Linked DNA regions of Homo sapiens. The protein of the gene in region 1 interacts with the protein of each later gene in a biochemical or structural test. Each region holds a gene or a part of one and is shown on either strand. Other genes may lie near its edges.

Region 1 (3,808 bases):
GGGAGCTCACTAACTAACTGGCTAAGGGAGCTCACTAACTAACTGGCAAGGGAGCTCTCTAACTAGCTAAGGGAGCTCACTAACTGGCTAAGGGAGCTCACTAACTAACTGGCAAGGGCGCTCACTAACTAACTGGCAAGGGCGCTCACTAACTGGCTAAGGGCGCTCACTATCTAACTGGCTAAGGGCGCTCACTTAACTAACTGGCAAGGGCGCTCACTAACTAACTGGCTAAGGGAGCTCACTAACTAACTGGCAAGGGAGCTCACTAACTGGCTAAGGGAGCTCACTAACTAACTGGCAAGGGCGCTCACTAACTAACTGGCAAGGGCGCTCACTAACTGGCTAAGGGCGCTCACTATCTAACTGGCTAAGGGAGCTCACTAACTAACTGGCAAGGGAGCTCACTAACTAACTGGCAAGGGAGCTCACTAACTAACTGGCTAAGGGAGCTAACTAACTAACTGGCAAGGGCGCTCACTAACTAACTGGCTAAGGGAGCTCACTAACTAACTGGCAAGGGAGCTCACTAACTAACTGGCTAAGGGAGCTCACTAACTAACTGGCAAGGGCGCTCACTAACTAACTGGCAAGGGCGCTCACTAACTGGCAAGGGCGCTCACTGACTGGCAAGGGCGCTCACTAACTAACTGGCAAGGGCGCTCACTAACTGGCAAGGGCGCTCACTAACTAACTGACTAAGGGAGCTCACTAACTAACTGGCAAGGGAGCTCACTAACTAACTGGCAAGGGAGCTCACTAACTGGCTAAGGGAGCTCACTAACTAACTGGCTAAGGGAGCTCACTAACTAACTGGCAAGGGAGCTCACTAACTAACTAAGGGAGCTCACTAACTGGCTAAGGGAGCTCACTAACTAACTGGCAAGGGTGCTCACTAACTAACTGGCAAGGGCGCTCACTAACTAACTGGCTAAGGGCGCTCACTATCTAACTGGCTAAGGGCGCTCACTTAACTAACTGGCAAGGGCACTCACTAACTGGCAAGGGAGCTCACTAACTGGCTAAGGGAGCTCACTAACTAACTGGCTAAGGGAGCTCACTAACTAACTGGCAAGGGAGCTCACTAACTAACTAAGGGAGCTCACTAACTGGCTAAGGGAGCTCACTAACTAACTGGCAAGGGTGCTCACTAACTAACTGGCAAGGGCGCTCACTAACTAACTGGCTAAGGGCGCTCACTATCTAACTGGCTAAGGGCGCTCACTTAACTAACTGGCAAGGGCGCTCACTAACTGGCAAGGGAGCTCACTAACTGGCTAAGGGAGCTCACTAACTAACTGGCAAGGGCGCTCACTAACTGGCAAGGGCGCTCACTAACTAACTGACTAAGGGAGCTCACTAACTAACTGGCAAGGGAGCTCACTAACTAACTGGCAAGGGAGCTCACTAACTGGCTAAGGGAGCTCACTAACTAACTGGCTAAGGGAGCTCACTAACTAACTGGCAAGGGAGCTCTCTAACTAGCTAAGGGAGCTCACTAACTGGCTAAGGGAGCTCACTAACTAACTGGCAAGGGTGCTCACTAACTAACTGGCAAGGGCGCTCACTAACTAACTGGCTAAGGGCGCTCACTAACTAACTGGCTAAGGGCGCTCACTATCTAACTGGCTAAGGGCGCTCACTTAACTAACTGGCAAGGGCGCTCACTAACTAACTGGCAAGGGTGCTCACTAACTAACTGGCAAGGGCGCTCACTAACTAACTGGCAAGGGAGCTCACTAACTAACTGGCTAAGGGAGCTCACTAATTAACTGGCAAGGGAGCTCACTAACTAACTGGCTAAGGGCGCTCACTAACTAACTGGCTAAGGGAGCTCACTAATTAACTGGCTAAGGGAGCTCACTAACTAACTGGCAAGGGAGCTCACTAACTAACTGGCTAAGGGCGCTCACTAACTAACTGGCTAAGGGAGCTCACTAATTAACTGGCAAGGGAGCTCACTAACTAACTGGCTAAGGGAGCTCACTAACTAACTGGCTCAGGGAGCTCACTAACTAACTGGCTAAGGGCGCTCACTAACTAACTGGCTAAGGGAGCTCACTAACTAACTGGCTAAGGGAGCTCACTAACTGGCAAGGGAGCTCACTAACTAACTGGCTAAGGGAGCTCACTAACTAACTGGCAAGGGCGCTCACTAACTAACTGGCTCAGGGAGCTCACTACCTAACTGGCTCAGGGAGCTCACTAACTGGCAAGGGAGCTCACTAACTAACTGGCAAGGGTGCTCACTAACTAACTGGCAAGGGAGCTCACTAACTAACTGGCAAGGGCAGGACCTGGTGCAGCACTCTAGGTTGTGTGCGTTGCTACTAATCATTCCCCTGTGTGTTTGGGAGAGAATGGAACCAGCTGCCACATCTACTGGGACAAGAGGCCTGCAGTTCCATAAAATTCAGCAACAAAAAGAGGGGTCTTTCAACTTGTGACGTTGACAGTCTTTAGATAAGTGGTTCTCAGTGTTTTTTCCCACCCAGTCATAGGGGGTTATGTGGCCTATGCAGGGATTCTCAGTGGGGAAGGGGACTGAAGTCCTGTGGATGGGAAAACTGTACTTGGATGAGGCCTGCTAGGTGATCTCATCACCTGCCCCTCTTGGGGGGATTACTGCTTTAAATACAGTATGGAAAAATCCATGATGACTCAAGTTAGCAAGCTTGGAAGTATAAAAATGATCTTCAGGAATTCTGAATTAAAGAAAACATCACTGTAGTTGGAAAATACTTCACATTACTGTTGGCCGAGAGCTCACGGTGGATTAAATTGGTAAAACTCTTGAATTACTGTGCTTTTGCAACTCAGAAAGTGGTTCAGAAACTGGACATTTTTCAGGGTACCGAAGCATTTATTTTCTGGATGTTTACACTATGAAAATAACAATAGAGGCCAGGCACTGTGGCTCGCGCCTGTAATCCCAGCACTTTGGGAGGCCAAGGTGGGCGGATCACGAGGTCAGGAGATCCAGACCATCCTGTGAATGGTGAAACCCCGTCTCTACTAAAAATACAAAAAATTAGCCGGGCGTGGTGGCAGGTGCCTGTAGTCCCAGCTACTCGGGAGACTGAGTCGGGAGAATGGCGTGAACCCAGGAGGCAGAGCTTGCAGTAAGCCAAGATCGCGCCACCGCACTCCAGTCTGGGCAGCAGAGTGAGATTCCGTCTCAAAAAAAAAAAAAAAAAATTAAAATAACAATAGAAACTAACTGGTCAAATTGGAGTCAGTTTTCCCTTTCCATGAGCCCAGTCTAGGACGCTTTCAGGGTTTTTGAATCCTGAAGTCTGACTTTAGGTTAAGTTGAGTTACTTGTCCTCAGGTTTGCCTCTCAGCCCAATTAAGACAGTCACCCCTACCCATCCAATTAAAAAGAAACATGATAAAACCACAAATGTGAGCCTGTACTCCTAGCACTGTAATCCCAGCACTTTGGGAGGCCAAGGAAGGTGGATCACTTGAGGTCAGGAGTTCAAGACCAGCCTGGCCAACATGGTGAAACCCCATCTCTACTAAAAATAACAAAAATTAGCTGGGCATGGCGGTGTGTGCCTGTAATCCCAGCTATTTGAGAGGCTGAGGCAGGAGAATCACTTGAACCAGAGAGGCAGAGGTTGCAGTAAGCCTGGGTGACAGAGTGAGACTCTGTCTCCAAAAAAAAAGAAAAAACAAAAAAAACCACGTATGCGTATATATGCCATACAAACTATATGAACCATTCGAGTTTTTTCCCATGATGATTACTACAATGGTTTTTAAAAAATTATATTTCCAAATAAGAGTACTCCAACTACTCGGT
Region 2 (3,221 bases), on another chromosome or scaffold:
CTAGGCATGGACGAAGGGGATGGGGAAGGGAACATCCTCCCCATCATGCAGAGTATTATGCAGAACCTACTCTCCAAGGATGTGCTGTACCCATCACTGAAGGAGATCACAGAAAAGGTTTGTGAACTTCCATTTCTGCTTTTTCTCTTCATTTTCCATCACATCAACTGATGTGGGCTATTTTGTCTACTCAGAGCCTGCAGAAAGAGTAACTCGAGTGTGCTTTTTTTCCTTCTTTATTTATTTGAGGCAGGGAGAGTTGGGGGTTGGGGAGAGTTGTGTCTCTGAGAGAATAAAGCTGTCACACGGTATGTTGGGGTATAAGAGGTATAACGTTTGGGGTCTAAGAGGAAATCCTTCAGTTCTAGTTTTCTATAAACTGGTTCAAGACTCTGGGATTGTTGTCTGATCAATCTTGCATTTCTGACTTCATTTCTCCAGCAAGAATTTGGCTGGGCATGGTGGCTCATGCCTGTAATCCCAGCACCTTGGGAGGCCGAGGCGGGTGGATCACCTGAGGTCAGGAGTTCGAGACCAGCCTGGCCAACATGGTGAAACCCCGTCTGTAGTAAAAATACAAAAATTATCCTGGCGTAGTGGCTCACGCCTGTGATCGCAACTACTCAGGAGGCAGCAGGAGAATCACTTGAACCTGGGAGGCAGAGGTTGCAGTGAGCTGAGATTGTGCCACTGTACTCCGGCCTGGGTGACAGAGCAAGACTCCATCTGAAAAAGAAAAAGAATTAACTGAGGATTTACTTACTGGCTTTGTGATGTGAACAGTGTAAGCGTAGTTTAAATGATGGTCCCTGCCATAAAAGAGCTTATATGTGTGGTTGTATCATTTTGTTTTGAGACAGGGTCTAGCTCCAGTTGGAGCACAGTGGCACGATCTTGGCTCACCACAGCCTCCCCATCCCAGGCTCAAGTGTTTCTCCCATCTCAGCCTCCTGAGTGGCTGGGACTACAGGTGTGTGCCACCATGCTTGGCCAATGTTTTCAAAATTTTTTGTAGAGTTGAGCTCTCACTATATTGCTCAGGCTGGTCTCAAACTCCTGAGCTCAAGTGATCCTCCCACCTCAGCCTCCCAAAATGCTGGGATTACAAGTGTGAGCCACCACACCTGGCTAAAGAGTGTATAGTTTTACTGGAGAGATAAAATACAGGAATAGAAGCTTTTCAGTGACATGGGGAAATGTGGGTAAGTGTGTAATGAATAGTACAGACCACGAGTCAGCAGGCCAAGACCTGGGTGGGACAAATCCAACTCTCTAGCAAATAATGGTTTTTACATTTTTAAGGTCATTTGAAAAAAACTACAAAGAAAATGTGCAATAGCCGAGCGTAGTGGCTCACTCCTATAGTCCCAGCGCTTTGGGAGGCCACGGTGGACAGATTGCTTGAGCCCAGGAGTTTAAGACCAGCTTGAGCAACATGATGAAACCCTGTCTCTACAAAATACAAAAAAATTAGCCAGTCACAGTGGTGCACACTTGTAGACCCAGCTACTTGGGGAGGCTCAGGTGGGAGGATTGCTTGAGCCTGGGGAGATCGAGGCTGCAGTGAGTGGTGATCACACCATCACACTCCAGCCTGGGTGACAGAGTAAAACTCTGTCTCGAAAAAAAAGAAAAAAAAAACACAATAGAGACCATATGTGGCCCTTGAAGCCTAAAATATTCACTGTCTGGCCCTTTACAGAAGCTTACCAATCTCTGGTGACCATAAATGCTAACATGGCCAGGTGATCTGGTTGGAGTCAGTGCCGCTTTTCATGATGAACTTACTTATTTAGCTTTTCGTTTTTCTACGTCCCTTTCCCTTTCACATTTTAATCACATTGTTCTGATTACCCATCCATATCCATTGTTCACTTAATTCTTTTCCACCCATTCTCTCTTTTCTTAGTATCCAGAATGGTTGCAGAGTCATCGGGAATCTCTACCTCCAGAGCAGTTTGAAAAATATCAGGAGCAGCACAGCGTCATGTGCAAAATATGTGAGCAGTTTGAGGCAGAGACCCCCACAGACAGTGAAACCACTCAAAAGGCTCGTTTTGAGATGGTGCTGGATCTTATGCAGCAGGTAAGGCCTCTTGCCTTCTGCCCACTGGTGCTGTCCACTTAGGTGTTCAGTGAAGGAAGTATCTGGGAAGGATGCAATACTGCTAGACCTAGGTGGAGGAGGGATCCTCTCTTGTGATCTCTCTCAGAAGAAATAGAGAGATCATTCATTAGATTCCTCTTCTGGATCCTCTGTTGTTTTCTGGGCTTTTCTCTATTTCATGTTCCATTTTCCTTATTTTCTAGCTACAAGATTTAGGCCATCCTCCAAAAGAGCTGGCTGGAGAGATGGTGAGTATGTCTTATTTTTCCAGATTTTAATTTGAGTCCCCAATTTCCAGAATTCTTTAACCTCTCAGGATTCCACCTAAGGTGAAAATTGTGGCTACTGGGGATGGATCTTCACGTCTGTCCTAAAAAATGAGCAACTATCTGAGTCCCTTCATCTCTTCCCCAGCCTCCTGGCCTCAACTTTGACCTGGATGCCCTCAATCTTTCGGGCCCACCAGGTGCCAGTGGTGAACAGTGTCTGATCATGTGAAACACAACACGTTTTCCTCTCTGAGTCCCAGCTATGGGGAACATCTGGAGTCAGCAGAACCATTGGGACCTGAGGCAGGAGTGTCACCTGCGGGAGAAGTCTGCCCGCTGCCCTCTGTCATCCCATTCAAGATTGTGCCATACCAGCTGAGGTTTTTCCTCTGTCTCTCTAGGAATAGGGTCTGTTTCACAGGCCATTTCTGTGAACCCTACTCCATTGTGGTTTCTGCCACTATCAAAGTTCCAGCTACCTGCAAGGTGAAGGAAGGCATCCCTTTTGGGGCATGCACTTTCTTTCCTTTCTCAAAATAATGTTATATGTGGCCACACTGATGTTCACCTTTACGTCCAGGGTCTTTGTGCCTTGTCTCTACTCCCTCTCTTGGATCTGGGGAGGAGGGGCAGAGACCTGGGACTCTGTATTTCTATAGTTCTCCTGGCAGAGCCTTTGAGAATGGGGAGAAACAGCCTGGGCTGGGGCTACAGGTCTGTCACTATGCTCTCTTGCCTTCAGACAGACCATTCTGAATTCTCTAAAGGGAAAGGGCTTTTGCATCTAATCACAATAGAGTTGAAAGAGAGGCCTTAGGATTCTCCTCTCTCTAGGTGCTGAGCCC

Evidence for each region.
Region 2: the proteins of PXMP2 (region 1) and PEX19 form a complex in vitro, tested with the Homo sapiens proteins (one study listed by IntAct).

What each region holds. Positions count from the first base shown.
Region 1 is NC_000012.12:132,690,442-132,694,249, reverse strand, and holds part of PXMP2 (peroxisomal membrane protein 2), read right to left. Parts: intron 1-3,808. UniProt on the Homo sapiens protein: Seems to be involved in pore-forming activity and may contribute to the unspecific permeability of the peroxisomal membrane.
Region 2 is NC_000001.11:160,278,935-160,282,155, reverse strand, and holds part of PEX19 (peroxisomal biogenesis factor 19), read left to right. Parts: coding exon 1-117; intron 118-1,909; coding exon 1,910-2,086; intron 2,087-2,310; coding exon 2,311-2,355; intron 2,356-2,521; coding exon 2,522-2,605; 3' UTR 2,606-3,221. UniProt on the Homo sapiens protein: Necessary for early peroxisomal biogenesis. Acts both as a cytosolic chaperone and as an import receptor for peroxisomal membrane proteins (PMPs).